6 separate regions of the Homo sapiens genome follow, and regions 2, 3, 4, 5 and 6 are each linked to region 1. Evidence: fine-mapped expression QTL. A gene starts in region 1. Each other region holds a variant in brackets. All regions are shown on one strand. Distances are between the middles of the regions.

Evidence for each region. PIP is the estimated chance that this variant, and not a neighbour inherited with it, causes the effect.
Region 2: its variant is fine-mapped to the expression of GRHPR in whole blood (INTERVAL, PIP above 0.99).
Region 3: its variant is fine-mapped to the expression of GRHPR in whole blood (INTERVAL, PIP 0.97).
Region 4: its variant is fine-mapped to the expression of GRHPR in spinal cord (GTEx, PIP 0.98).
Region 5: its variant is fine-mapped to the expression of GRHPR in B cells (Schmiedel 2018, PIP 0.91).
Region 6: its variant is fine-mapped to the expression of GRHPR in whole blood (INTERVAL, PIP 0.99).

The regions. Positions count from the first base shown.
Region 1 is chr9:37,420,445-37,425,517 of GRCh38, forward strand. GRHPR (glyoxylate and hydroxypyruvate reductase) reads left to right here and starts at 2,252. Exons shown (of 9, transcript NM_012203.2): 1 at 2,252-2,389; 2 at 4,401-4,531. The coding sequence starts at 2,307. RefSeq lists enhancers at 1,598-2,223, 2,224-2,849, 4,524-5,073 and a silencer at 2,064-2,213.
Region 2 is chr9:37,483,732-37,488,804 of GRCh38, forward strand. POLR1E (RNA polymerase I subunit E) reads left to right here and starts at 2,217. Exons shown (of 12, transcript NM_022490.4): 1 at 2,217-2,392; 2 at 2,972-3,075; 3 at 4,132-4,208. The coding sequence starts at 2,317. RefSeq lists an enhancer at 1,682-2,273 and a silencer at 2,015-2,344. The variant G/A (reference allele first, on the strand shown) is at 2,655.
Region 3 is chr9:37,458,832-37,463,904 of GRCh38, forward strand. The region is part of intron 1 of ZBTB5 (zinc finger and BTB domain containing 5); the gene reads right to left. Among named protein-coding and RNA genes, the nearest start is that of ZBTB5, 4.1 kb to the right of the region's middle. The variant A/G (reference allele first, on the strand shown) is at 2,236.
Region 4 is chr9:36,738,604-36,743,676 of GRCh38, forward strand. No RefSeq gene overlaps it. Among named protein-coding and RNA genes, the nearest start is that of MIR4475, 82 kb to the right of the region's middle. RefSeq lists an enhancer at 1-1,001. The variant T/C (reference allele first, on the strand shown) is at 2,446.
Region 5 is chr9:37,039,414-37,044,486 of GRCh38, forward strand. No RefSeq gene overlaps it. Among named protein-coding and RNA genes, the nearest start is that of PAX5, 7.7 kb to the left of the region's middle. The variant C/T (reference allele first, on the strand shown) is at 2,523.
Region 6 is chr9:37,577,470-37,582,542 of GRCh38, forward strand. No RefSeq gene overlaps it. Among named protein-coding and RNA genes, the nearest start is that of FBXO10, 3.6 kb to the left of the region's middle. The variant T/C (reference allele first, on the strand shown) is at 3,077.

The DNA.
Region 1 (5,073 bases):
ATGAGCCACTGCACCTGGCCTGTTCCCAAAGAAACAAGAAAGATGTTTCTTGTACATCTTTCCAGGGATATTTAACACACAGAAATAGGTGGCCAGGTGTCGTGGCTCACGCCTGTAATCCCAGAACTTTGGAAGTGGATCGCTTTGAGCCCAGGTGTTCGAGACAAGCCCGGTCAACATAATGAAACCCTGTCTCTACAAAAAATACAAAACATTAGCTGGGTGTGGTGGCACATGCCTGTGGTCCCAGCTGCTCAGGAGGCTGAGGCGGGAGGATCATTGGAGCACAGGAGGTAGAGGTTGCAGTGAGCCAAGATTGCACCATTGCCCTCCAGCCTAGATAACAGACTGAGATCCTGTCTCAAAAAAAAAAAAAAAAAAAAAAAAAAAAGAATAGGCATATACTTTCTCCTATAAATGGTAACATATGCACTTTGCATCACCCTGTTTTCTCACTGGACAGTACATCTTGGAGATCATTCCACACTGGTACGCACAGAGCTGCCTCACTCTTTTGATTGATGCAGAGTATTTCACTGTGGGAATGAAGCATACGTAATGAACAGTCCCCTATGAGTGGACCTTTAGGTTGTTTCCCATATTTTACTATTCCAACAATGCCACAATGAAGAGCCTTTGGCAGATGGCATTTTGCACATGTGTGAACGCGTCTGTAAGGTAAATTCCTAAAAGCAAAATTTCTGGGTCAAAAAAGATGTGCAGTCTAAACTTTGATAGCTACTGCCAAACTTTCTTATTGAAGTTGCTGATTTACACTCCTACCAGCAACGTATGAAAGCACCTGGTTCCCCAATGTATTATTTTTTACATTGGTATCTTGCTGTAATTTTAATATGCAGTTCTTTTGTGAGTCAAGTTGAGCACTTTTCATCTTTTGTTTTTTTTTTTTGTTTGTTTTGTTTTTTTTTGTTTTAGATGGAGTCTCACTCTGTCACCCAGGCTGGAGTGTAGTGATGGGATCTCGGCTCACTGCAACCTCCATCTCCTGGACTCATGAGCAATTCTCCTGCCTCAGCCTCCTGAGTAGCTGGAATTACAGGCATGTGCCACCATGCCCACCTAATGTTTGTATATTCAGTACAGACAGAGTTTCACCATGTTGGCCAGGCTGGTCTCAAACTTCTGACCTCAAGTGATCCGCCTGCCTCGGCCTCCGAAAGTGCTGGGATTACAGGCATGAGCCACCGCGCCCAGCCATACATTTAAAGGCCATTTTCTTTTCTATAAACTGTCCATTGATATCCTTTGCTTATTCAGATAAGCTGGGCATCTTTGTCTTAGGAACTATTTGTGCAATAAGTAAATCAACCCCTTGTCTATAAAATGAGTTGCAAATATATGGTATTTTTCCCGGTTTGTTGTCTTATGATTTTGTTAATTTTTTTTTTTTAAGATAAACATAAGCCTGGTATTTCCAGGCACCTGGTATTTCCAGGCAGTCTCCCATACAAGCCCTAACCAGGCTTAGTTTCCAAGATCAGATGCATTCAGGATGGTACGGTTAATTTTTCAATGGAGAATTAGTTGTACTCTTATGGCTTCTGGCTTTCGCACACATAGCGTATCACTTATTTATTGCTGCATAAAGAATTACTCCAAAATTGAACGGCTTAGAGCAACAGCAGTCAGTGCATTATCATCTCTTATGGTTCCGGGGTTGACTGGGCTCAGCCAGTGATTCTCCTAAAGGCTCTTTCTTGCAGTTTTAGCTGTAGTCAGGTGGGAGTTGGCCTGGAGTCACCCGAAGGCTTCCTCACTCATACCTCTGGTCATTGACGGTGGCTGTGAGCCGGGCCCCTGGCTGTGCTGTTGGCCTGAACACCTACACGTGACCTCTCTGTGTGTCCTGGACTTCCTCACAGCCTGGAACCTGGGTTTCTACCCTGGGCCAACCCAAGAGACAGAAAAAGTGGGGGCTTTCAGTCTCTTAAGGCCTGAGCCTGTGGAAACAGGACCCTGAGCGTGTAGAAAAAGCAGGGCTCCCATGAGGCCTTGGACGGGATACTGCCCCCTCTCCCCCGGGGCCCTGATTCCCCAGTGGCACGAGGCGCACCCCCCCACACACACACAAGGACACTGTGTAGGGTCACTGTTACTGTCACTCCCCGAGCACGCACAGTCACCGCTCAGCCGCAACCCGGCGCTCCCTCTCGCGAAGCCACACCCCCTGCGCACGCCGCGCGCGACGTCTCTCCCGCCCACTCCAGCCTGGCCCCGCCCCGGCCCAGCTACATTCCCGGGCCAGCTTCTGTACTGCCAGGTCCGGGTCGGCGGCTGCACTGCGGATGAGACCGGTGCGACTCATGAAGGTGTTCGTCACCCGCAGGATACCCGCCGAGGGTAGGGTCGCGCTCGCCCGGGCGGCAGAGTAAGAGCCTCGCGCGCCGTGGAGGAGGGAGCAGGGCGGTCCCAGGGACCGGAGAGCCGGGCGGGGCGTTTGGGCCTTGTGGCCGGCTGGGGCAGGCTTGGAGTTTTGGGGAGTCTCGGAGAAAGTTCTCTGGGGCCCAGTTCTCCTCTTAAGACGACGCTGGGACCTGCAGTTCCGGCTTTGGAGAGGGGAGATTGCCCCTGAGGCAAGGTCCAGGCTAATTCTCCACGCTCCCACAGGACATGTGGGGTCAGGGACATGGCGGTCACTGACCAGGCCCTTGGACGTTTGGCAGGGGGCTTTGATGACTCTTCTTCTTTATATTTACTTATCTTTTTTTTTTTTTTTTTGAGACAGTCTCACTCTGCTGCACAGGCTGGAGTGCAGTGGCTCGATCGATCGTGGCTTACTGCAGCCTCGACTTCTTGGGCCCAATCAGTTCTCCCACCTGAGCCTCCCGAGTAGCTGGGACTACAGGCGCAAACAATCACTACCGGCTAATTTTCTGATTTTTTTTTTGTAGAGATGGGGGTCTCACTCTGTTGCTCAGGCTGGTCTCAAATTCCTGGGCTCAAGCAATCCTCTTGCCTCAGCCTCCCAAAGTGTTGGGATTACAGGTGTTAGTCACCATGACTGGCCTGAGGACCCTTTAATTTTTAAGACAGGGTCTCACTCTCATCCAGGCTGGAGTGCAGTGGCACCATTATACCTCACTGCAGCCTCAACCTCCTGGACTCAAGAGATACTTCCACCTCAGCCTCCCAAGTAGCTGGGACTACTACAGGCATGCACTACCATGCCTGGCTAATTTTTTATTTTTTTCAAAGACGAGGGTCTCACTGTGTTGCCCAGGCTGGTCCTGAACTCCTGTACGAAGGGATCCTCCCACCTCAGCCTCCCAAAGTGCTGGGATTACAGGCATGAACCACTGCACCTGGCCCACCCTTGCTAAATGGAACCCTTTTTGTGGGCCAACCTTGCCAGGTGCTTCATATACATAAACTTTTAATCCTGGTAGCACTGTGAAGTCAGTATTATAATTCCCATTGCACAGATTAAAAACTGGAGGCTGGACTTAGGGTTAAGTTTCTTCCCAAAGCCATGCAGCTCCCAGGTGGAGGAGCTGGGGCTTGTACTCAGAAGTGTCTGACTGCTGTCTGATCACTGCATTTGATCAGGTTTGTGTTTCCAATGTTAGATAGGAAGAGGATGCAATCCAGCCTCAGCAGCCAGTTCTAGGGGCATATGAGATTTTCAAATTTTGTTCACTGCAACAAAACCTTTGCCAAGGACCCACTTTGTACTGAGCAGGAGAAGGTGGAAGGCAGCAACCGCGCCCATGGTAACAGTAGCTCACGCTGTACCCTGCTCATGGGGAGGTGGATGAAAGGTGGTCAGTGCCCTGGGCTCAGTCAGGAGGTGCAAGTAGCTATCCTGTGTCCTGCCACATAGAGGCTCCACACGTGCTGACTGTACTGAATTCCATGGCAAGGGCCAGGAGGCACCGTGCATCACTGGGACAAATATCTGGTTGCTGTGAGCTGCCGTGGAAGCGTTGGGTGGCCTTGACCTTATCTTTCCTGGCCCAGTCCAACTATGAGAGTTTTCTATTTCATGGACTCCACGGACAGGAAGAGATGCAACAGGCCATTGAATCCAGGCCCCCCACCTGAGGCACACCCTGCCCCCCACGGGCCTTCCCTGCAGTTGGCCGCCTGCTTGGCCGCCCAGCCCCTGTGAATGTGGGAAAGCTCTTCTCTGTGCTGACCTGAGAGCTGTCCCCATGCCTTCCCCCTTGCAGCTTAGGCTCTGCTGGGGGGCCCCTCAGCCCTTCACCTGTCACCTGCTGTCTCGGGACAGTTCTGAGACCACCCCTGCCTGACCCTGCCTCCCCTCAGCCAGCCCCGGGCAGCCTGAGGCCAGGGCCATCAGAGGCCAGGATTCCCAGCTGGGAGGGGCGGGGACAGGTGTGCGGCTCCTGCTTCTCCTGAGGGCCTCCCTTTCCCCGCAGCTGTGAGGTGGAGCAGTGGGACTCGGATGAGCCCATCCCTGCCAAGGAGCTAGAGCGAGGTGTGGCGGGGGCCCACGGCCTGCTCTGCCTCCTCTCCGACCACGTGGACAAGAGGATCCTGGATGCTGCAGGTGCACACTGGGTGGGCAGGGGACTTGAGGGTGGCTTGGCCCTGTGGGCCCCTCAGCCTGTGCTGCTGGCTCCTGGCTGCTCTGCAGTGCTGTCTGGGTTCTGAGGGCGTTTCCTGCGATACCAGGCCCGAGCGGGCAGATAGCTTGCTCTGGCACAGGCACTGCCCCTCCCTCCTGCTGTGAACCCCTTGGCGGGGGACCCTAGGAGGGCAAAGACCGCGGTGTGGAGACTGTGGGTGTGGGGAAGTGCATCCAAGGCCCTGGGTTCTCCAGCCCTGCCACAACCTTGCTCTGTGACCTCCAGCAAGACCCTGCCCCTTCTGGGCGTGTGCGTAGTATGAGGGAGGACCTAGCTCAGTGCCAAGCCCCAGCAGGATGTCTTTCCTCAACCGCAGCCACGGGTCTCAGCCCATGGAAGAATAAACCTCCCCCTGTGAGGCTGTTGTGACAGTTTTGAGAAAAGGTTCAGACTCAGAGGCTGCCAGATGGGAAGGGACCCTTGTGAGTCAGTGCTGAGCCGCCCCACATCCTGGCCTTGGCCT
Region 2 (5,073 bases), 63 kb after region 1:
TTCATTCAACCAAAAAACATTTATAGAGTCTGTTATGTGTAAACCCTATGCTAGTTGATTTCAACCAATATTACCAAACATCTTTGAGTTCCAGTCCCTGTGCTAGGCTTCCAAGATTAGTGATAATTCAGGCCCATTCTTTGCCCTGTCATTCATTAATTCATTCCATATTTATTGAGGGTCTAGTATGTTCAGGATTTGGAGATAAAGCAGTGATCAAAACAAACATAAATTTGTTTATTAACCTCCAAAGTGTTTATTGTGAACCCCAAGTAAGTTTAGTGAGGAAACAATCAATGGGTGAGACAATCACACAATTAAGCTCTTCTTTCTTCATCCTTCTTTCTTCTTTCTTCTTCTTCCCTTTTCCTTTCCTGAACAATTCAATCCAAAATCATGAGGTGGGGTCAAGCAAGGTAGCCTTCTAAGGGAGGAAAGGCTATGAGAGCTAAATGCAACACATGATTCTTGACAGGACATTTTTGCTATAAAAACATGATTGGGCCAGCTGCAATGGCTCACGCCTGTAATCCCAGAACTTTGGGAGGCCAAGGTGGGAGGATCACTTGAGCCCAGGAGTCTGAGACCAGCCCTGGCAACACAGTGAGACCTAGTCTCTACAAAAAATTTTTTTAATTAAGAAAAAACAAAACAAAACTGAGTGTGGTGGCACACACTTGTATTCCCAGGTTGTGGTGAGAGGATCACTTGAGCCTGGAAGGTCAAGGCTGCAGTGAGCCCTGGTTGCAACACTGCACTCCAGCCTGGGTGACAGAGTGAGACCCTGTCTCAAAAAACAAACTAACAACAAACGTTGGGACAATGGGTGAACTTAAATGGGATGTGAGGATTACATGGTGGTAATGTACCAGTGCTAATTTCCTGATTCTTTTCTGTTTAATTTTTTTTTTTTTTTTTGTCGCCCAGGCTAGAGTGCAGTGGCACCATCACAGCTCACTGCAGCCTCTGCCTCCTAGGCTCAAGCAATCCTCCCACCTCAGCCTCCCGAGTAGCTGGGACGACACGCGTGCGCCACCACACATGGCTAATATTATTTTTTGTAGAGACAGGGTCTTGTTATGTTGCCCAGCCTGGTCTCAAACTCCTGGAATCAAGGGATAGAACTGCCTCTCCCTCCCAAAGTGCTGGGATTGCAGGCGTGAACCACTGCGCCCGGCAATTTGCTGATTCTGATGGCTGTGTTGTTATTTAGGGAATGTCTGTAGGAAATACTATAGTCTTCAGGGTTGAAAGGGTATCAGGTTGACAACTTACTCTAAATGGTTCAGGGCAAAAACATTTCTTGCAGTGTTTCTTTACGTTTGAGATTGGGTAATTAGAAAAGCGTGACAAGTGCTCAGGCAAAGGGGCATGCAGGCTTTAGGGTTATTCCTAGGATCCTGGGTGTTGGAGGCGGGTGTTGAGGGTGTGTGGAAGGAAAAGAGTCTTGAAAGAAGGTGATTTGGAAGACAGAGGGGAGTCAACCGGAGTTCTTGCCCTTCAATAGTACGCATCTTTGGGCAAAGGGGGCCTCGGCCAGCGTCCATGCTTAAAGGCCCTGCTTTCGCCTTCTTTCTGCTCTGAAAACTCCCCGTGCAGAAGAAGGGTTGAATCCGCAGTGAAAAAGGGACATGTCCATCAGCTCGGACTCCCTCTTCTATTCCAGTCCAGAATCTCCTGCCCAAAGGCTCCGGGGTTGGCTGGGCTTCTGTTCCATCACCTCAGTGTTGATTGGGCCACAGGTGTGCACGCCACAGCCCATGGCGGGGAGCTGTTTGTCGGACTGTGGACAAAGTTTGTACCTAGAGCTGGATGTCCACGTGGGTGGGTGGGAAGCCCTAGAGAGGGGCGGCTATTCGCCAGCGGCCACATTTAGTTGGGGCTCAAGCAGTTCCTGTCAGAGAATTCTAAATTTGAACTTGGTCCTTCAGGTCTTGGGAAGATGAGTTTGTCACGGTAGGAGAGAGAGACGACACTCTCTTTAGAAGGTGCTGAGCCGGAAGAAGGCTCATAGCAAGCTTAGGCTGAAGCCTTTGGCGCCTCGGGCTCTGGACCTACAAAACCCAGAGTGCACGCGAGCGCTGAGCCAATCAGGTGCTGCGCCTCGGCCAGTCAAGCGGGTGTGTGGCACCTTGTGGGCGGAGACCACGCCTCTCTACGCGGGGGGCGGGGACACGCGGCTCGCGCGCTGTGGGCGGTGCCCGGCGGGGCCACGCCTTTTCCGGCCCGCAGCGCGGCCTGGGCTCCCGCGTGTTTAAAAGTGCGCTTGTGGCTGCTGCTGTCTTAACTCCTGTGCTTGGCGGACAGACAGGCGAGATGGCGGCGGAGGTGTTGCCGAGTGCGAGGTGGCAGTATTGTGGGGCGCCCGACGGGAGCCAGAGAGCTGTACTGGGTAAAGACTGCGGAGCTGGAGCAGTGCTCCTCTAACCCTCTCCCCTTCCGTCTCGGTACCTCAGCTGTCCTCTCGCCCTCCGTTGGGCTTCTCCCCAGCGGGGCCGGGACCCCTCTAGTCTCCACCACTCCCCTGGGCTCTGTCAGGGCTCCCCTGTCCGTCTTTCTGTCACTACCTCCCAGCCAGATTGGGACATCCCACTCACCCGCTCCCCAGAGCTGTGTCCAGGACCCTGCTGACCCCCTCACCCACCAGGTCTCCC[G/A]CCTCCCCCATTTCCCTCTCTTCACTGGGCAGGGGTTCCTTCTGTCACTTTAGGTATGTACCAGGCCTCTGCTGTCAGCCTCCTTCCGCGAGACATTCCCTCCTGTCACAGCCCCTCCCCAGGGTTCTCCCACCTCCCTACCTCCTCTTCTCAGCTGGCCCCGGATCTCCTCCAGTTCCCTTTGGGTCAGGACCCGAGCTTCCTTGCCATCCCCATTCTGACACTCCCTCCCAGTGACAGTCTAGTCCCACCGTACATTGTGTGGTACATTGTGTGGCCTTCTGCTCTCATCTCATTCTTGGGCTGCACTCTTACAGTCCAGTTCTCCAACGGGAAGCTACAGAGTCCAGGCAACATGCGCTTTACCTTGTATGAGAACAAAGATTCCACCAACCCCAGGAAGAGGAATCAACGGATCCTGGTAAGTGAAGCAGTTGCCAGCTGTCTCCACTCTGCAGGGCTCAGAAGGCCCCTGGGAGTGGGTGGATGTGGGAGGGAGTGAGGGGAGAAAAAGGGGAGTAGTAGCAAATGGAGCTTTGAAGAACTCTGATGCCCAGCAGCCTGGGATGTGGGGACAGGCTCCATCTTTCATTCATTTGTTCTTTCAACAAGCATTTATGGAACCTGCCCCTCTGCATCCCTGTGCTGCAAGCTTCTAGGAAAACAGCCAAATCAGGCCTAGCCCCACTCAGAGTTCATACTCTAGAGCAGGGTTTCTCAACCTCAGGACTATTGACTTTTTGGGCCAATAATTCTTTGCTGTGGGGGCAGCATCCCTAGTCTCTACTCATTAGATGCCAGTAGCACCAGAGTGGATTTCCCTGGATTGAGAACCTCTGCTCTAGAGAGATGAGAACTGGCTGTGAGGGACACTTTTACACAAAGCTCTGAGGCCACGTGGGGAAGAGTACAGGGCAGAGTGAGCTCAGTGGGAGGAGAGGTCTCTGCCAGAATGCCTTCCTTGGTGAGGTCATGTTGGAGCTGAGCCTTGAAGGCTGGAATGAGGGTTTGGCAGTCAACGTTTGGTGTTTCGAGTGAAAAGGATAGTGAGGACAAATGCAGAGAAGCAGGAAAGCTTGCTTATGATTGGGGAGTGAATCAGCCATGGTCCTGAGAGTATACAAAGAACAGGCCAAAGAGAGATTGCTTACAGAATCACTTTGTTGCATACCTTTAAGTGCCAGAAGCCCAGGGCCTCTCTCTCAAGTCTTGTGGCAGAATTCCCCCAAGAGCTTTTCATACCATTTAGAAGCTAGCACCATCTGAGGCTTCTCTTCCAGAAGTCGTCTTGCTTCCCCTGCAGGGACACCCCATATTCCCTTAGAGATAGTGGGGCTGGATCATCTGCCAGAGATGAACTAGTTCTAATCCATTGTGAGTCTGGATTCAAAAGCCTCAGCAAATGTAGAAAAGAGAAATGATGCTTAATACCTTTCAACATTGGTTGTAAATGGAGTTTCCCCTCTCTGCATTTTAGGCAGCTGAAACAGATAGGCTCTCCTATGTGGGAAACAATTTTGGGACTGGAGCCCTCAAATGCAACACTTTGTGCAGGTAATGGCAGGGGAAGGGACAGTGGGAAGGGTGATGGGGTTGGGAGTGGTGGCAGCACTGGCACTGCTGTTTCCTGTCTGTTTTAAGGGTAGCAGGAGCCATCTAGAGAGGTTTACTAGGTGATCCCTGTGTTCCTATTAGACCCAGAGCCCTTCCCTGCACGTGTAGACGTTGCTGGAAAGGAAAGATAACTTGAATTTCCTAAAAACCTCATTCATTTGTAATCTTGTTTATTTATAGCTGTCTTATTCCAAAAGGCAGGTCTCTCCATTAATTTGGAATGTGTGACTAGTAGGTCAAAGCTTGCGTGAAGTTTACCTGGGAACTAACGACAGGTAAAGAACTTGGTAGTGTTGAAGGCTCTGGACTGGGAAAGAGGAGCCTGGGATTCCCATCCAGCTGTGCTGCTGATTGACTGAGTGGCTGGGTAACTCTGCGCATCACTGACCCCCAGCCTCCCCCTCTGTACAGTGAAGATTGTCCAGCCTGAACTGTATCACTCTCGGGGGCTGGCATGATGCAGACAGGGCCCTGTGATGGTACCCAACAATGAACTACAAACTAGGCCCTTTCTGAGCCCCGGTGGACCATACTCCAATAGAGGAGAGGTCAGATGGGTGTATAGGTGCTGAGAACTATTAACCCTGCACTCTCCCCTCTCAGAGATGCCCTAGTTCCAATTGGTCTCCTCCCCGTTTACTTGATTTTGCCTCCATAAAACTGTTGTGCCATAAATTGTAGTGTAATTCTAGGTTCGTACACCCCAAAAGAGTTTTCCATTACACTACCGCAGTGAGCCCAAATGTGATCAACTATCAGAATCACCTAGTAGCTTTTTTTTTTTTCCCAGAACCACCTCATATCC
Region 3 (5,073 bases), 38 kb after region 1:
TTCAAGGTACAAAACATAAGCTAATGTATTTTAATGCAACAGAATATGAAAAGTTCATTGACATAATTTCAGATTCCACATTGCACTAATCACTTAAGAAAATACCACTTGTGGAGTTTTGGTACAGTATCAGAGTAAGAATATCCAAAATTATCTGAAAAATCTACTGAAATAATCCTCCCTTTCCAACTACATATTTGTGTGATGCTGGAGTTTTTTGGTATATTTTAATCAAAATAGTGTATCACGGCAAAATGAATGCAGAAGCATTTAATGGAATCCAGCTGTCTTCTATTAAACTACATATTAAAGAGATTTACAAAAAATGTAAAACAGGGCATGGGCATGCCAGCCCCTGCTTCTCAGCCTGTACTCCCAGCACTTTGGGAGGCCAAGGCAGGTGGATCACCTGAGGTCAGGAGTTTGAGACCAGCCTGACCAACATGGAGAAAAGCCGTCTCTACTAAAAATACAAAAAATTGGTGGGGCGTGGTGACACATGCCTGTAATCCCAGCTACTCGGGAGGCTGAGGCAGAAGAATCGCTTGAACCTGGGAGGCAGAGGTTGCAGTGAGCCAAGATCGCACCACTGTACTCCAGTCTGGGCAACAAGAGCAAAACTCTATCTCAAAAAAAAAAAAAAGTTTTCTTTTCTTTCCAATCCCAACTGATGTGTAGCATAAACAACTTTTAAACATGTCTTTTACCCCTGACAGATCAAGAAACTTTTTTTTTTTTTTCAGGCAGAGTCTCACTCTGTTACCCAGGCTGGAGTGCAGTGGCACAATCTCAGCTCACTGCAACCTCCAGTTCAAGCAATCCTCCTGCCTCAGCCTCCCGAATAGCTGGGATTACAGGCGTGCACCACCATGCCCAGCTAATTTTTTTTTTTTTTTTTGAAATGAGTCTTGCTCTGTTGCCCAGGCTGGAGTGCAGTGGTGCGATCTCGGCTCACTGCAAGCTCTGCCTCCCGGGTTCATGCCATTCTCCTGCCTTAGCCTCCCAAGTAGCTGGGACTACGGGCGCCCGCCACCACACCTGGCTAATTTTTTGTATTTTTAGTAGAGACGGGGTTTCACCTTGTTAGTCAGGATGGTCTCGATCTCCTGACCTCATGATCTGTCCGTCTCGGCCTCCCAAAGTGCTGGGATTACAGGCGTGAGCCACTGCGCCAGGCCATTTTTTTTAATTTTTAGTAAAGACTGGGTTTCATCATATTAGCCAGGCTAGTCTCAAGCTACTGACCTTGTGATCTGCCTACCTCAGCCTCCCAAAATGCTGGGCCTGGCCAAGAAACTTCTTTCTTAATGAAAAAAATTAGTCCAGCTAGGCACAGTGGCTCACGCCTGTAATCCCAGCACTTTGGGAGGCCGAGGCGGGTGGATCAACTGAGGTCGGAAGTTCGAAACTAGCCTGACCAACATGGAGAAACCCTGTCTCTGCCAAAAATAAAAAATTAGCCGGGCATGGTGGTGCATGCCTGTAATCCCAGCTACTCGGGGGCTGAGGCAGGAGAATCGCTTGAACCCGGGAGGTGGAGGTTGCAGTGAGCCAAGATCGCGCCATTGCGCTGGATCCAGCCTGGGCAATAAGAGTGAACACTCCCCCCCCAAAAAAATTAGGCCAGATGCGGGGCTCACACCTGTAATCCCAGTACTTTGGGAGGCTGAAGCGGGAGGCTCATTTGAGACCTGCTTGGTTAACATAGCAAAACCTTTTCTCTACAAAAAAATTTTTTTTTAATTAGCTGGGTGCTGGGCATGGTGGCTCACGCCTATAATCTCAACATGTTGGGAGGCCAAGGTGGGAGAAATGCTTGAGTCCAGGAGTCTAAGACCAGCCTGGAAAACATAGGGAGACCCCCACCTCCACAAAAAATACAAAAATTAGCTGGGCGTGGTGGTGCATGCCTGTAGTCCCAGCTACTTGGGAGGCTGGGTGGGGGAGGGTTGCTTGAGCCCAGGAGTTTGGGGCTGCAGTGAGTTATGACCATCCCACTACACTCCAGCCCAGGTGACAGAGCAAGACCCTATCTCAAAAGCAAAACAGAACAAAGTAGAAAGAAAAAAAAAAACTAAACTTTTATCAAGATGAAAACTATGACAAAGCTTTGGAGACACTATTATTATGGTGCCTTTCCAACAGAGAAGATGAACATGGACTTAATCCATTTCTTACACCTAGTTTACTTTCAAAGCAGTATATGCCTTCACTTCTCAATCATTTATCAAATCA[A/G]TAATGCTCAGCAAGTGACCTTCACTTGACCTGCAGAGTTGCTTTTGATCATCTATTCAAAATAAGTACAATCTAAGTAACTTAAATGTGTTTAGATTTTTGTAGCATTTCTGGGCTCCTCCCACAACCAAATGCCCAAACACTGGATTTTGTTTTCCTGGTCTTCCTTCCTCAAATCCTCTTCGCAAAAAAGACTAAACCATAAGGACTATAAAGGTGAAAGCCTTGTATTTTTAGAGGAAGATGGTTGAGTGGATTTTAAATTATAATTGACTAAGATGTACTGAAAAATTAATTATACCATGTCAACAATATCATGCATAGAAAAAAAGGGGAGCAACTCACCCTAAACATTTTAAACTTAAGAAAATGGCAATCAGCCAGGTGCAGTGGCTCTCATGCCTGTAATCACGCACTTTGGGAGGCCAAGGCAGTCGGATCACCTGAGGTCAGGAGTTCAAGACCAGCCTGGCCAACATGGCGAAACCCTGTCTCTACCAAAAAGTACAAAAATTAGTCGGGCATGGTGGCACGAGCTGTAGTCCCAGCTACTCAGGAGGCTGAGACACAAGAATCATTTGAACCCAGGAGGCGGAGGTTGCAGTGACCCGAGATCAGATTATGCCATTGCACTCAAGCCTGGGTGACAGAGTGAGACCCTGTCTCAAAAAAAAAAGTAAATTAGGAATAAAGGCATTTGTAAACCTGTTACCATACAAAGTAACAGATTACCAAGTATAATTTCCAAAAAGTAGACCTATCACTTAATCATCCTTTAAAATTTGTAAAATGAACATTTTATTTGTTAATTTCCATTTACATAAGGAAAAATATCACGCTCGATAGGCTTCTTTTCAGTAACAAACATTTTCCAGAGCAGGAAAACGAATTAGGAAAATTTATTGGTTACAATTACAAGGAATTAGTTGGGTACAAAAGTCTCTTTATGGGGGATAGGCAGCCAGGATTTTACTATGTTGCCTGGGCTGGTTTGAACTCAAGTGATCCTCCTGCCTCAGACTCCCAAGTAGTTGGGACTACAGGTGTGTGCCACCTGAGCTAAAATTCTATTAATTTTACCAAATTTCATTAAATCTAAGATGTCTGTGATTATAAAATGCATTATTTCATGTAACACTAGGAAAAAAACTGCCAATTAAGCTATGGCATAATGCTTACTTATGGTATCCTGTCTTCAAGGAAGGAAAACTGTCTGCCAATGACTACTATGATAGAGGCAGGAGACAGACAAATGCCTAGGCAGACAGGGGCACATCCCCAGTGAAACCCCACCTCCAAGCCGAAGACAGTTTAAAAGCTTGAAAGCCAAGCTACAAGTCAAATCCACGGACCAGATTGAGAACCTGTGTTCCCATTTGGCATGCTTTCCTCTGACTGATCCCCACCCTTCACCTATTTTACATATATCTACCCCTTTCCTAATTGGTTTTCTACACTGTCGTGCCCACCTTTGAGTGGTGTCTTTGCTTTAACCGTTTTTTTTTTTTTTTTGAGACAGGGTCTCACTCTGTCTCCAAGACTCCAAGTGTGCAGTGGCATGCTCTCAGCTCAATGCAACTTCTGCCTCCCAGGCTCAAGCGATTCTTCCGCCTCGGCCTCCTGAGTAGCTGGGATTACAGGCGCACGTCACCATGCCGGGTTAATTTTTGTATTTTTAGTAGAGACAGGGTTTCACCATGTTGGCCAGATTGGTCTTGAACTCCTGAGCTCAGGCAATCTGCCCGCCTCAGCCTCCCCAATTGCAGTAATTACAGGCGTGAGCCACCACACCCGGCCTTCCCTTTAAACTTTTTGCATCAGAAACCAATCAGCACACACTCCCCATTCTGAGTCCCTAAGAAGCCCCGGAACCAGCCACACTGGGAAAGAGACCACCCCCTGCATGCCCTCTTCTCTGAGAGCTGTTCCATCACTCAATAAAATTCTTCTCTGCCCTCCTCACCCTTCGAATTGTCAGAGTAACCTAATCTGTTTGGGATGTCAAGATAAATCAAAGCTTTTAGGAAATACATGTATAACTAATAAAATGAAAGGCACCTCTAAAACTGGATCTTGAAATTAAAAGCTACTATTCAGTGGTGAAAATGATGAGAACATATGCAAAGAGCAATAGTTCACTCAGAAACAGCTGGTCTTTTAGGAGATGAGAAGTTCACTTCATACTTAGACAAAAGGCATAGTGTAGTGCTACATTCCATCCCACCTGCTACACTAACAAAACTGGCTCTACTAGACAACATCCATATTTGAGAAATATTACGTACAGTAAAAGAAAAATCACACGCTTAAAACTGACAGAGGGGGAAAGTATTTAAAATTAATTTACATTAAAAAAAAAGTTGAAAGCTAACATAGAATCAATACCTTGGGTTCTTTTTTCCATTTCCAAAACGAATGTGAGCCAGATTCAAGATTCTCTGTCAGCACTACACCAGGTTTTGTCAATTTCACTGAACACAAGATATTTTAAAGTCTCCAATTCGATATAATTCATGCTGAGTTCTTTAAGTACTATTTGATATCCCAGTGATTTTTTATTACTTCCACTTTGGGGACAGTCTTGTGAGTCTCTTTTGAGAGCGTTCGCTCCTAAGTCTGTAAGATGCCTTTCCTCCAAATCTTACCATTTTCAGAATTCTGCTAGAGACATATCAATTAACCAAAATCCAGCTTGCCAGCATCCTCAGCTAACTAAAAGTTATGTTTTGACACAACTTTTAGGGAAAAGGGGCAAATCTCTAGTAAACGAGTTGACTTCAGGACTCTTCAAAAAAAGAGTCTGTTTATTCAGCAAAACCCAAGGGCCCAAAACAGGTC
Region 4 (5,073 bases), 680 kb before region 1:
TGAGACAACTGGTGTTTTGTTTCAGAGATATTGGTGGTTTGGCGAAGGCTCAGCCATTTCAAACTCCATCTAACTTCCACCAAGCTTCGAAACTCTGCCTGAATTTAAGATCCTCTGAGCCTTGGGATCAGAAACCCTCTTTTCCAGGTGACTCAGTAATAAGACGTGACTCAGTAATAAGACGGCCCCTCCCTTCCTGCTCCTTAGAGATGAGGCCTTTCTAAAGGACTCACAACTGCCTCCATGGTTTTGAATGTTTTAAAATGTAACTTGGCCTTGAGGGTGGATCCAGGCCTGGCTGTGGAGTGAGGTTCTGATGGATTCTGGGGCGGCAGACCTCTTGAACCATCGAAGCGTGCAGGCTGATTTTTAAAAATAATTGTCCTTTTTAATGATGTAAAACATGTCATCTAGATTAAAAAATAAACACACTTTATTACTTTCCCAGTCTTTTCTTCCTCCCTCCCAGGGCCAGATGGGGATTGCTTGAATATTTCTGGCGTATTTCACATATTTAATAACGCCCTTGGAGGTTCTTCCAGAACTGATAAAAATGTGGGATAGACAGTGTTCACAGAAAGGAAAGCTGGTGGTGTGTGTTCGTGTGTCGGGGTGGGGGTGGGAGATGGGGGGGGGCATCTGTTTTGGAAGCAAGTCAAAAGGCATGTACTTTTTATCTTGAGCAACAAAGGACATTGTTTCACTGTCTCCCCGCCCCAACTCTTGCCTTTTGGGGGTTGGGGGAGCAGAAGGAAGAAAAGAGAGAAAAAAATCACTGCAGCTAAAAAAACTAGAGCGGCTTCAGAGAATCAGTCCTTCCCCCCTTCCCCGACAGCTTTCCACTAGCTCTCTTGCGCTACAGCGAATCCAAGAAAATAATTAAAGCTTTAATTTATTTATACGTCTTCTCTATAGATATTATAGATCTCACAATCGCCGCCTCCTAATTTATGCACGCAGAGCCTGCGGCAGCTCGGAGCCGCCAGGGTTGGGGGGTCCGGGCCCCTCGGAGCGGGACGGCTGTCAGCCCCCGCGGTGGCCGCACAAAGGCTGGGGTCCCGGCGGGCGCACCTGGGTGATGGGCACCTCCCGAGACTCCCCGGGACGGAGGCCTGACAGCGCGCGGCGGCCGCCTTAATAGACTGCGGGATGTTCTCCGGGAGAAGGCTGCGCCGGTCCCCGAGGACAGATCATCAGGCAGAGTGGTCCCCGGAGCAGGATTTATTAGCAGACAGGATGGGGAAGTTGATTAGCCTCCGCGGCTGAACGGACATCCTGTCAGACAGGCCTCTTAATCCAATCACTTACCTGTGGAGGGGAGCCGGCTGCCTCCTCCTGGCCCCCTTCCTCCTCCCATGGCACCTGCGGGGCCACGCGGGGTGCTCCGGAGCCAGGGTACACAGGCCAGGCCTTCCGTGCCTGGCCTCGCTCTCTGATTCAGTCTCGTGGTTGATGCAACCTGCAGGCTGCTCTTTTGGGCTCACTGCCCTGGTGGTGACTCTCCCGCATAGAGACCTTACCTTCTGTGGCTCCCTCTTCCCCACTCAGGAAAATCCCCTTCCCCTCCCTGGGCTTGCCTCATTTGACCCTGAACCACCTTTCCAGCTTCAGCCTCCACTAGTCCTTCTCTTGAGTGGCCTCTCTCCATTTCCTGAACCTCTCCTGCCTGCCCCCTGCCCTTGCTTCAGGTATGGGGTCTACTTAGACTGTTCTCTCTCTCTCTCTTTTCCCCCAAATCCTTCTTGTCCTCCAGGGTCTAGCCCACAAGTCTCATCTTCCCTGATTCCATGCCCCCTCCCTCCAGGCCCAGGTAATTTCCCTCTCTTCTGAAGCTTTATCCATCTGTGGTGGGTGAGGATTCCAGGCCCAAATCCTGCTTCCACCTCACCAGCTCTGCAGCCCTGGCCAGATGACCTCACTGGCCTCCCCTTCTGGGGATGACAGCAGCAAGTTCCTCCAGGGTCTGCTGAGGACCAAATGAGAGGGTGCATGTTGAGAGCTGGCGGTAACGTCCAGCCCACAGCAGCACGCAGCGGTAGGTGATTGTTTCACCCTGGATTGGGATCATTCTGTATGGTGGGGTCTCCTTCACAGTGCTGAGTTCCATTAGGACAGGGGCCAGGCCTCACCATCTCCTCCCTCTTTCCGTCTCCCTTGCCCTAACACCAAGCACAACCCTTTCCAGATAAGATGGCTGAATGTTTGTTGAATGCATGGGGCAACCATCTGCCACACAGTGGACCAAGGATGGCGAACCCTCTCTCGGAGTGACCCCACGGGGCCCCACCTTTGGCTTACCTGACCATGGAAGAAGAAGGACTGTGAGGGACAGGGCCTCCATCTGCTTCTGTGGGGCGGGCATTGAGATGTGTGTTCTCTCCAGCTCTTGTCAAGAGTTTAGGAATTCAGACCCTATTGATCCACTGCGTCTTCAAAGCCATCTGT[T/C]ATCATTAAGAAACAGGACCTGAGCCCCGGATGCAGCGGCTGGCACTGGGTAATTTAGAGCATTTTACACACACACACACACACACGCACACACACAGAGAGAGAGAGACATGGCTAAAAGAAGTTAGCTAAGGCAAACATTGAACACTTGGCAGGCAGGGAGGGAAAGAACCAGGGGACTCATAGAAACCAAAGGTTTCTACACCGCTACATTAAATTCTACTTCCTGGTCACAGATTTTCATGGTTGATTGTAATCGTCTATGGGCATTTGACTTTGGCAAATGTGGATGCCAAGGTCTCACCCAGGCCCTGCCACCTCCTACTGATGTCTGTCCCTTGCTGCTCACAACCGTCAGTCTTGACTGGGTTGATGTCAAGGTCACTGGTCCCTAGTTTGCGCCATCTTCCTTATTTTCCTTTAAAACAAACCAGAATAACATTTGCCAGACCACAGTTGTCAGGCAACTTTCCCATGCCTTGGTGTTTCTCAAAGATTTCTAGCTGTGCCTGGGTCATTTTGGTGTGGCAGAATTTACCACTGGAAGAAGATTCAGAGCAGGGGCCTGGTTAGATGCTGCTACTGATTAGACGTGTGCTTCTAGGTGGGGTGGCATGGGAGAGTGTGGGCACTTAACCGAACCTCACGGAACCTCAGTTTCTTCATCTATCATATGGGGATAATATTTGGCCCACTACTACAAAAGGGGAGATTTAAGGGTAAGATGAGGTGCTTGATAGGAATGTGCTTTTAAAAGCACAGTACTATACAAAATTAAGGCATAACTACTATCAGGAGATTGTGCCTAAAATATCTAATACTCTCAGTGCTAGGTGCTGGAGAAGTAAAGGTGACCAAGCCTCACTCTGCTCTCAGTGAGTTTCACAGGCTAAAGGGGGAAACGAATATGGGGACGCTAACTAAGCAACCAGCAGGATCCGTCCAACTGGACCTTGGGTCGCCCTTTCAATCCTGGAGCCCCTGTTCCCTACAGCATGTGCCATCAGAAGGGGCTCCGGCCAGCACAAGGTCAGGCAGCTGTGGCACTGCCCTTGTTCTGCTGTTTGATTCAATGGATGAGATGGAGTAAACATGGAGGCTTCTCCTTTTAGGATGGGGAGTTTATGTCTTAAGAAAAATGACAGATGCCACTGAACCTTTTTTATGACAGATTCACTGAACACTGACGTCTGTTGATTGTGTCAATAGGGAGAAAGAGGGTAGAGAGCTGAAGAAATTCCTACCCCGAGCTACCCTCTCATCCATGTATCTTTTTTTTTTTTGTCTCCAGTCCTTGCTTCGGGAATCTCTGCTCAGACCTGCAGTGCCCTCTCCAAGGGGGATCAGCTAAAATGCCTTCCATTGCATGGATCCTGAGCTCCCCCGACAGGTATGGCAGCTGGTAACTGCAGCTTCCCTACCCCTCCCCCAAAGGGGCAGGTGCACAGCTCTGATCTGGGGCTCCTAGAGGCAGAAGCACTCTTCCGGACTGTTCTGTAAGTGATTCTCACTACGACTGGGAGGAGGGAAGGGGACTGTTGTCCCAGCCTCTCCCATTCTGTGCCTCCCTCTGCCCAGTCTATGGGCACCCCTTGGGGCCCCAGAACCCTTCTTAGGTAAGCAGGAGTGCGTAGGATGCAGCACCAATGAGGAGAATAAATTTGCTCAGGTGAACATCCCCTTATTGAGGGAAGGTCCTTACGTTTTCAAGATGATTATGGCATTAGAGCTCAGAGTGCAAGCGCATATATCTCAACACAGATGAGCTACAGGGCCCCGATTCCTCTGCCTGTTAGGGGCTGACCTCTTGGGATAAAGCAAGGGGCCGTGACTCAGATCTGAGGAGAATAAACTGGTATTTGGCTGAAATCACTGAATTGACTGAGACTAGGGGCCTGGCCCCAGGGCATTCTGGGGTCGAGAAGTGGCCCCGTATAGACCTGGGACTATGGGGCTCTGTGGTTCTCCCAGGCAGAGTCCCCAGTCCCCATAAACTGCGGCCTGTGCTACCCCATGCTCCTCCCCACCGCTGTCCAGAACCCCCATGCCTGCTCACACCCTTGAGCGCAGACAGAAGAGGACCCCGTGGTTCCTAGTGGGAGGGGTGGGTAGAATGAGCAGTGCTCTGGCCCGCACAGTCGCCTGATGCTGGCTGCCTGTGCTCAGCAGCCTGGCAGGTGGGAGGAGGGAGACAGCTGGTTGGGGTTTTGGGAACAGGGACCATGTTTTAATAATCTCCATATCCCCAGCACAGAGTGGGTGCTAGAAAATGTATTGTTGAATCAAAGGATAGTTGAGTAGGGGGCCTGCAGATGGCAAGGCGGGACAGGGCCCTGCAGCCTGAAGAAACTGCATGAGCAAACGCTGGAGGTGGTCACAGTGCCAGGTAAGGCTGAAGGGGGAGTGGCAGAGAACTCACAGCTGGAGGGATGTACAGGGCTGCCCACTTCAACCCCTCCACCTCTCTCAGAATGCTGAGCTCATTCTAGAGCCCCAGCAGCAGCCTTCCTGGAGATAATCCAGCTGCACTTGAAGTCTCTGGAGACATGGAGCTCATTCTTCCCTTGACATTGCTTTGTATCTTGGGCGTCTCTGATGGATACAAAATGAACTTCTTTCTTAAATGAA
Region 5 (5,073 bases), 380 kb before region 1:
AGTCTGGATTTGAGAACGTGCCGGAAATAAAACTGTGCTCTAAAAATCTTTCAGGTTTGCTGCTGATTAACTATCTTTAGCAACCCAGCCCAGAGTAAGATGGAAAAGATGAGCTACACTTGGGCCAAAGTGCCTTTGAGATGAGCCCTGAAGCCAGTCTCAGTGTTTAGCCATCACCAGAGACACTTCCCAAAGCCTTAACTTTTCCTTCACTTTGTACTGGAGGTGGGGGCCTTCTGGCACTGAATGCAAATCTACCAAAAAAAAAAAAATCCTCTACACAAAGAAAAATTAAAGATATCCCCTAATTTATTTTCGGTCAGATGAAAACCATCTGAAATATCTAATATGAGGAGCTTATGGACATAGAATCAGAAAGTCATTATCCCCCTAAATCATGAAAATATTTCTAATGGAAAATCATGACATTGTATCCTCGTTATAAACACATAGTGTGGACCTATCACATAAGGAAACTCCGTCAATCTACTATTACCTAAGAATCCAAAATGATACATTGGAAAGATTTGCAGTCTGAGGACAAAATATTCATACGAAATACGTACCAAAATAATCATGCTAAATTGTTCATACTGAAATGCTGCTATCCTTTCAACTAAAACAATCTTTAGAACAAGTATTGGCAATTTTCTGGACAGATCTTTATAAATCTTCCCAGCAAAACAATTAAGAAATATGTACTCAGATTTTATTTTTACAGGATATATGTGTGTATATGTATATATATTTTATGTATGTATATATTTACATATACATGCGCGTGTGTGTGTAAAGTTCTCTACCATAGGCAGGCTGAGAGTTCAAAGATGGGCTTTTCCTTGTTAGGTACAAATTCTTATAAACAAAGTATGAGATGGAAACAGTTTAGTGAATTTTTTCCTAATTTGGTACAGCAGTTGGTGTCTCATTTCTCATGCAATTTGCACGTAGACTCATGTACCCCATGAAGTGACAAAAGAGAATCAGGGATGAAAACCTGCCAGTGTCTGCAGGCGGTGCCTCAAAGCGCTCTTTTGGACACACGTTCTTGGTGGTGGGGAGTTTGCTGCCTCTAAACCAGGCCTGACCTTTTGTCTTTTGACCTCTGATGCATGAAATTAGGTAGCAAAAGAAAATGAAGAAAAGGATACAAAAACATGGAAAAACAGCCCTCCTTGACAATAGTCATTGTATCAGATCATAGCAGAGCTGCCCTACATAGCCCAAAGTGCTTGTTTATAAGGCTGCGGGTCTTCCTGGCCACTGGGTTCCTGTTCTTCTTTGTGGGCAATCTGCATTTGTTGGGGGAGGGACTACGCACTCTTTTTAATTAAGCTCAGAGCTGGGTTTTGTCTTGGCTCCTTTCACCAAAGCCCGTTTAGCGAGCGTTTGGCCCCTCCATTTCCTCTGAGGTCTTCTGTGTAGGCTGGGTGCCTGGGGGTACCACCTGGGGCAGCTTCCAAGACCCAAAGGAAAACTCTGCCCCTTCTGGCCACCCAGGCTGAAGCTGAATCCCAGCTGGCGTGGAGGGGAGAGGGTGGCAAGGGGTGGGGTCATGCTCCTTGGTCCTGAAGGAACACACACCCCAAGTGAATAGACTTCCACTCTTTCTCCAAACCCCGTCAGAAAGCCTGAGTCACTGGTGTTCCCTGCCCCCTCGGCCTAAGGAGTCAGCTCAGTACCCTCCCCTGTCATGAGAGCCAGGGAGGAGGGCAAGAACATTTGCAGAGATGCCTTCAGCAAGCCTCACACAACATCCTTTGATCCTCGAAGCCACCCTGGAAAGGGGTGCACAGCCCTGGGTTAGGAGCCACAGTACAATGGGCACCAGGCCCCGTCCAGAAGGGAAACAGGCCTCGACTTAGATGGTAAGAGAGTGAAGATGTGTGCAAGCAAGAGAGATCTGGGAGAACTGTGCCAGGTACTGAAGCCAGACTCTGGAAAGGGGGAGGCTGGAGGGGACATCTCTAGAGGGTGACCTGAGATGAGTGTTGAAGGGTAAGTAGGACTTTGCTAGATAAATAAGGAGCAGATGGCATAACTAAGATCTGCACTTTGCAGAAGAGGCTACTGGATATCAACATACAAGCAAAATACTGAAAAAAGAGCTGCCCAAGGGTTTGGGAACAATGTAGGAATGGCAAATGCTTCTGAGGGAAGGAATTCACAATGGTTTGAGGAACGGGACAAAGGAAGGAAGATGGCTAGAGTGGGCAGGCCCCTGCTGTACCTCATGAAGATGGCCAGAGCAGCAGCTAAGACATATTCTCTCCTTACCATATGGAGTAAATGGACCCACAGGCCAAAGGGAAGAAATAAGAGAAAGGCCCTAGGACCAAAGGAGAGAAACATAGCAAAGCTTACTCTCCATCAGTTTTTTGGATTTTTTTTTTTTAACCTTCTCCCCTGGGAAGTTTGCACAAAGTTCCCTCAACAACCTCAGTCTGGAAAAGCAAACCAACCACCCTCAGCCTGGAATGCTCCTCATGAACTTTACCAAATCCTCTCAGGCTGTAAAGACC[C/T]CCCCCAGAGCCGCAGCTGGTGGCCACCATTCTCTGCTCAGGCCACGTAGCCCTGAGCTCACCCTTCCTGTTACCTTATGGGTTGGAGATGAAGTGTCTGTGTCCAGTTCTCACCACTCCTCCTAGTCTCCTGGCTCCCATGGGCAGGACTTCTCCTTTGGGCACCAGCTCTTCTGGAAGTAAGTCATTCTGTTCCCTTATAACAGTAGCTTCTACACTTCAGTGTGAGAAGAATCACATGCAGATCCCTGGGCCCCAGCCCCAGAGAGCTTGGTTTAGTGCTATGAGACCGAGCTTGGAACCTGAACGTCTAGTAACTTCCCCAGGTGAGTAGGGTGCAGGAAGTACCTGGACCATCCATTGAGAAACACTGGCTTAAAAGCTTTTTCAGAGCAAGCACTAAGCCACTGTGATTCACTGACCCCTGCCCCACTCACCAGGTCTACACCTGTCTAAACACCCTGAACGAGAATTTGTGAGGCTGGCAACATCCAGATCCCCAAAGTATCAGCAGCCATATTGACAAACCATTCCTGATTTGCCCCAAAAGGACCAAAAAAAGTCTGACTTTGGTAATGGATGTGCCCCCTTCCTCTCATTTTAATTCAATTCTATTCAGCAAAGACAGCCTTGTGCTTAGTCCTGGAGGGAGATGAGAGCCTCCTGCCTCAAGTTGCTCGAAGCCACACTGAAGAAATAAGCCTTTAATCCACAGAAGAACTTGATCCGGCTTTTTTTTTTTTTTTTTTTTTTTTTTGAGACTATCTTGTTCTGTCCCCCAGGCTGGAGTGCAGTGGCACGATCTCAGCTCACTGAAACCTCTGACTCCCAGGTTCAAGTGATTCTTGTACCTCAGCCTCCCAAGCAGCTGGGATTTCAGGCACACACCACCACACTTGGCTAATTTTTGTATTTTTAGTAGAGACAGGGTTTCACCATGTTGGCCAAGCTGGTCTCCAACTCCTGGCCTCAAGTGATCCGCCCACCTTGGCCTCCCAAAGTGCTGGGATTATAGGCATGACCCACTGCACCTGGCCCAGGCTTTTAATTATATACAATTAGGAAAACAAAAGTGGAGTCCTCCCTTCCTGCTAAGGAAATCTATGAAGATTTCTTAAAGGAGGCAGCATTTGATCTGGAAGAGTGAGTTGGAAAAGAAAGGGAAAAGGATGCTACAGACCAACAGTTCAATATGATGAGCAATGGCTCGGAGGGAGAAAATGCTTGGCTTATTTAAGAACTGGCAAGGCAGGAGAATAGAGAGAATTCCCTGGTGATGAAATTGAGACCAGTTGAGGAAACAAGAGTCCTCAAGGACTGCATTAATCTTATTTTTTTTTTGAGACAAGGTCTCACTCTGTCACCCAGGCTGGAGTGCAGTGGTCCCACCATGGCTTACTGCAGCCTTGATCTCCCATGCTCAAGTGATTGTCCTGCCTCAGTTTCCTGAATACCTGGGACTACTGGCATGAGCCACCATGCCCTGCTAATGTTTGTATTTTTTGTAGAGACAGGGTTTCACCAGGTTGTCCAAGCTGGTCTCGAACTCCTGGGCTTAAGCCATCCACCTGCCTTGGCTTCCCAAAGTGCTGGGATTACAAGCATGAGCCACCACACCCAGCCTAGAGCAATCTTAAGGTCTGATCCACTTACACACCCCAGGGTTTGCTACTCCCAGGTAACACTCACGGGAACATCCGAACTTCCTTTGGAGATTTGCAAGACTCTCTTGCTGGCCTCCCTGGCTGAGCAGGAGTCACTATGCCTGCTTTTGTGGGCTTTTCTGTCTGCACTCTGTCTAGGGTTATTCCACTAGTGAGCATATCAGACTCCCCCTGGGTGCCACACTTATGTGAATGCCTTTGTCACACTGTCATGGCTCCTTGTCCTCTTCCCTTCCTCTCATGAAAGCAGTGAGACAGTGTCTGATCCCTCTTTGCAACCCCAAAAACAGCACAGGAGTTGCACATAAAAATGCTCATTTGAGAGTCTGATGAATGAATAAATGTGGTGAAGGTAAAATCCTCCCTGAACTGGTCCTCTGCAGCCCATGACTCTAGCTCTCACTTCACCACATCCTAGAAGCATGACGTCACCTCTGTGCCCCTCAGTTTGCTAACCTATAAAATGGGCAGAATAAGTGCCACCCACTCAACCTATTTCTCATGGCAATTGTGAGGACCAAATGATATAACAGCTGGGATTTGCTTCACAAAGTATTGTTAGGATGGGTTTGGAATTCCCCAATGCTGCTTACAGAAAATCTTTTTTTTTTTTTTTTTTTTTTTTTTTTTTTTTGAGACGGAGTCTTGCTCTGTCACCCAGGCTGGAGTGCAATGCCATGATCTCGACTCGCTGCAACCTCTGCCTCCCAGGTTCAAGCGATTCTCCTGCCTCAGCCTCCAGAGTAGCTGGGATTACAGGCGCCTGCCACCATGCCTGGCTAATTTTTGTATTTTTAGTAGAGATGGGGTTTTACCTTGCTGGCCAGGCTAGTCTAAAACCCCTGACCTTGCGATCCACCCGCCTCGGCCTCCCAAAGTGCTGGGAC
Region 6 (5,073 bases), 160 kb after region 1:
AATTGTACGTAACAGGAAGCCATCGAAGGGGTGGAGGATTTGATACCTTTTAAAGCAGTATGTCAGCTACTATGTGAAGACAGGAGTTAAGGGTGGAAGCAGAGATTGGTAGCTTAACCTATTAACTGGGCCCGTGGAGGTGCTATTTATTGAAATGGGAACTATTGTAAGGGGAATATATTTGGAAGCGGGGGGAGATCAAGAACTCCCATTTGAACTTGTTAAATTTGACACTGCCAGTTAGAATGACTATTAACAAAAAGACAAAAAAATAACAAATGCTGGTGAGGACATGGAGAAAAGGGAACTCTCATACACTGAATTATACAGCCAGTATAGAAAAATGCATGGAGGTTTCTCAAAAAAGTAAAACTAGAACTGCCATATGATCCAGCAGTCCCACTGCTGGATATTTATCCAGGAATGGAAATCAGTATGTCAAAGGTATGCCTGGATCCCCATGTTTATTGCAGCACTATTCGCAATAGCCAAGATATGGAAGCAACCTAAGTCTTCATCAACAGATGAATGGATAAAAAGAATGTGGCATATATACACAACAGAATACTATTCAGCCTGTCATTTGCAGCAACACAGATGGAACTGGAGGTCATTATGTAAAGTGAAATAAGCCACGCATAGAAAGACAAATATCACATGTTCTCACTCATACGTGGGAGCTAAAAAGTTGATCTCATGCAGTTGGCAAGTAGAATGACAGTTACCAGAGGCTGGGAGGGGAAGGGGATAGAGAGAGGTTGGTTAATGGGTACAAACATGGATAGAAGGAATAAATTTTAGTGTTCAATAGCACAGTAGGGTGACTGTAGTTAACAATAATTTATTGTATATTTCAAAATAGCTAGATTTAAATGCTCCCAATACAAATAAATGATAAATTTTTGAGATGGATATTCTAAATACCCTGATTTGATCATTACGTATTGTATGCATGAGTCAAATATCACATGTACCCCATAAATATGTACAATTATCTATCAATTAAAAATAATTAATTTTGAGATGCCTGTGTGTCATCCAAGTGGAGTGATTAAAAAAGCAATTCACGGCTGGGCGTGGTGGCTCACGCCTGTAATCCCAGCACTCTGGGAGGTCGAACGGACGAATCACGAGGTCAGGAGTTTGAGACCAGACTGACCAACATGGTGAAACGCCGTCTCTATTAAAAACACAAAAATTGGCTGGGTGTGGTGGCGCGTGCCTGTAATTCCAGCTATCAGGAGGCTGAGGCAGGAGAATCGCTTGAACCTGGGAGGTGGTGGTTGCAGTGAGCAGAGATCGTGCGCCACTGCACTCCAGCCTGAGTGGCAGAGTGAGACTGTGTCTCAAAAAAAAAAAAAAAAAAGCAGTTCACTTGTAATCCCAGCTACTCAGGAGGCTGAGGCAGGAGGATCGCTTGAACCCAGGAGTTTGAGACCAACCTGGGCAACGAAGCAAGACCCTGTCTCTAAAAAAGAAAAGGAGTTGGATACAGACCTCCGGAATTTACGAGAGAATATCAGCTATAGAAACATAATTTACCAAGAATACTATGAAAAAGAAATTATTACACGAAATTGTGGCCTGAAATAATTGACCCCGTGGTCCTACTGACCTTTTTCAGTCCCTGGTTCTATAGAATATATTCCATAAAAATGTATTCCATCTATTATTACCATATGGTGAATGTGGTATGATTCTGGGTGAGGTCTAAGTTACCATGTAGCTGGTCTCTTTTATAAATAAGAAAACCAAACACTAAAACCTAAAGCCAACAATTTATTTTAAGACACAAAGTTGTACAGTAGCTAGGTATAGTAGAAAGACCACAGGGGTAGTCTCACACTGCAATGAGCCTGATGATTTACCTTGCTGACTGACAAAGCTATGCCATATTTAATCCTTTGAAAAGTATCTTACTCCATGAAACTGGCAGTCCAGATATGACTGTCAATAAACAATCAAAAGCTTGAGTTTCTGGATTTGTGCCAGCTAACATTATCATTTTGGTATTTGTATAAAACAGCTGACTTTCAAAGTGCTACAGCAGTGTCCTACAAGAGCAAGCTGTCTTCCCTATTAGTGGGGCAAGCATCACGTGCCACATGGGAATTTTTGTTTGTTTTGAGATGGGGTTTTGCTCTTGTCGCCCAGACTGGAGTGCAATGGCATGATCTTGGCTCACCGCAACCCCCACCTCCCAGGTTCAAGCGATTGTCCTGCTTCAGCCTCCCCCGTAGCTGGTATTAACAGGTACCAGCCACTAGGCCCAGCTAATTTTTGTATTTTAGTAGAGACGGGGTTTCACCATGTTGGCCAGGCTGGTCTCAAACTCCCGACCTCAGGTGATTCGCCCGCCTCAGCCTCCCAAAGCTCTGGGATTACAGGCATGAGCCACCACACCTGGCCAGGGGTTTTTTTTTTTTTTTTTTTTTTTTGAAACAGAGTCTCGCTCTGTTGCCCAGGCTGGAGTGCAGTGGCTCAGTCTCAGCTCACTGCAACCTCCACCTCCTGGGTTCAAGCGATTCTTCTGTCTCAGCCTCCCAAGTAGCTGGGACTACAGGCTTTCGCATTTTCAGTAGAGACAGGGTTTCACCATATTGATTAGTCTGGTCTCAAACTCCTGACCTCAGGTAATCCACCTGCCTCGGCCTCCCAAAGTGGTGGGATTACAGGTGTAAGCCAATGCGCCCAGCCAAAAATATAACTACTTAAATATAAGAACATCATTCACAAACTACAGTTGAGCCCTCTCTTCTTTCTGCCCTCATCTCACCTCTGCATGCCTCTATCCTACCATTAGACTCGAGAGGAAACTTACTCATCTTTATACACTGGCACCTGGCTGGTGTTTACTGGCAAATGTATAAGTGAACACACAAAATCTCCTCAGCCATGGGAGCTTTATTTACTTTGCTTTCCAGAAAAAGTAGGCTCACACAGAGTGGTGTCCCAGGTCAACATAGTGGACATGCCATGCTTTTTGGCTGCCCAGCATCTGAGGTCCCTTCCTACATTTGGGAATTCCTTGTTTATGAGTTTGCTGGGAAGCAGAACATGCCTTTCACTATAGAAG[T/C]GGAAATTCCAGGTATTTTCTCTGCTTCTCCTTGTGATTCTATCATGCTACAAATTACTCTTGATTTTGAATTAAGTACCAGAGACACAATAAAGTCTCTGGAATAATTTTCTCTGGGACCATGGCAAGTGCGGCAAGTTCTTAGAGCAACACTGGCTGCCATGATCCAGGGTTCTGTGCATGTGGCTTTGGCAAAGTAAGTGGTGGCACCTAATGTTCAGCAGAAATGGCGTCCTCACTGCCCCAGCTCTGTGGAGTATGACCAAGGAACAAAGGGTGATGTTCCAGTTGCCTACTCTCCAAGCCTAATTCTCTAGGCCTCCTGGTGATACTGAACTCCCTGTTATCCTTTTAATAAAATACTTTTCTTTTTCTGTCAAAATTGGATTTTGGTGTTTGCAACTAAAAAATCTGACTCACATAGTCACATGATAAATAGCAGAGCTGAAACTATAATCTAGGACATTGAAATCCTAATTCTAGTATTCTTTCCATGTAGACAGATCTCTACTTTCCAACAACCCACAATTTTTACATTACATATCGCTGTCCCTAAATCATTTTGTTCACCGAATTTATACTTGAATATGTAAGCTGATTAGTGAACATTTCAAGTGACTGTATTTCAAATGCAGTATTATCTTTGTACATCTGTTTATGTAATAGTTTCTTTCTTTTTTGCATTTTTGGCCTCTATATACTTAAGTGGAAATGAAAATACCCCGCACTTGAACAAACGTGGGAGTTAGGGGCCCCGACACCTGCACAGTCACAAATCTGCATGTAACTTTGACTCCCCAAAAACTTAACTACTAATAGCCTACTGTTGCACAGAAACCTTACCGATAACATAAAAAATAGATTAATATGTATTTTGTATCATTATCTATTATATACTGTATTCTTACAACACAGTAAGCTAGAGAAAATGTTAAGAAAATCACAGAGAGAAAAAGCATTGACAGTACTATACCGTATTTATTTAGATTCTAAGTTTAGGTTGTCTGTTTACAAGATTAGTCGTGTCTGAAATCAGAGCAACTACAGCTGCAGACCTCAATCTATAGTACATATCAAGAATTCAACTTTTTCCTTTAATGTCATGACTTTTCTCTGCTTCCTGGGAGCACTTCCAGCATCACTAGTGGCACTCTGTATAGATCCCATGGAGTTATTCAAAGTTTTGTGGTATGGTATTAAACACAAAAAATACATGAGACAGAGAGGGATCGCTTTTACTTTGATTTGCAATTTACTGGAGCGAGGAACTGCTCATGCAGAGATGAGTGTCACATGGCATTTTAAGTGGATACCTATAACACTTGAGCTCCCTGCAGTGGCAACAAGAGGTGGCTATGGACTTACTGTATTACACTATTACAAAAGATAATTTTATGCAGTTATGATTTAATACTGCATCTTTCTCTTGACCTCAAATTGTGCTATGTATGGTCTGTGTACATAAGTTTTGATAAATCTTAATTTTTTATAATAGATGTGTGCATTTTATGAGTAAGACTACAATCTACATATATTTTATGCATTCATGACATCCTTTATCTTAAATTTTTTCAATATTTCTAGACTACATATGTGTGCTTTTTTCAAATTGTTGCAAATCTCCGATTTTTCAACGCATTTTTTGAAAAAAATCTGCACGTAAGTGGACCTGTGCACTTCAAATCTGTGTTGTTCAAGGGTCAACTCTACTATTACTAATGTGACTGAGAAAAAGATGAAAAACTATTAGACACGCTTAAAGTAGATCTTTTTAGCCTTATAATGACTGTTGGACTAAAACCAGCTGTGTTTTATTTCTGAATGAAAGAAACAATTTAAGAACATATTTCATAACTCTGAAAATATTTCGTATGTTTAAAAGACAAAGTGCATAAATGATTTTGTAATGTTTTACATCTCAGTAACAAGTATATTCAACTTTTACATATGTGATTTCTATGTTTTGTGTACTTATGCTAAAGTAGGCAACTGACACC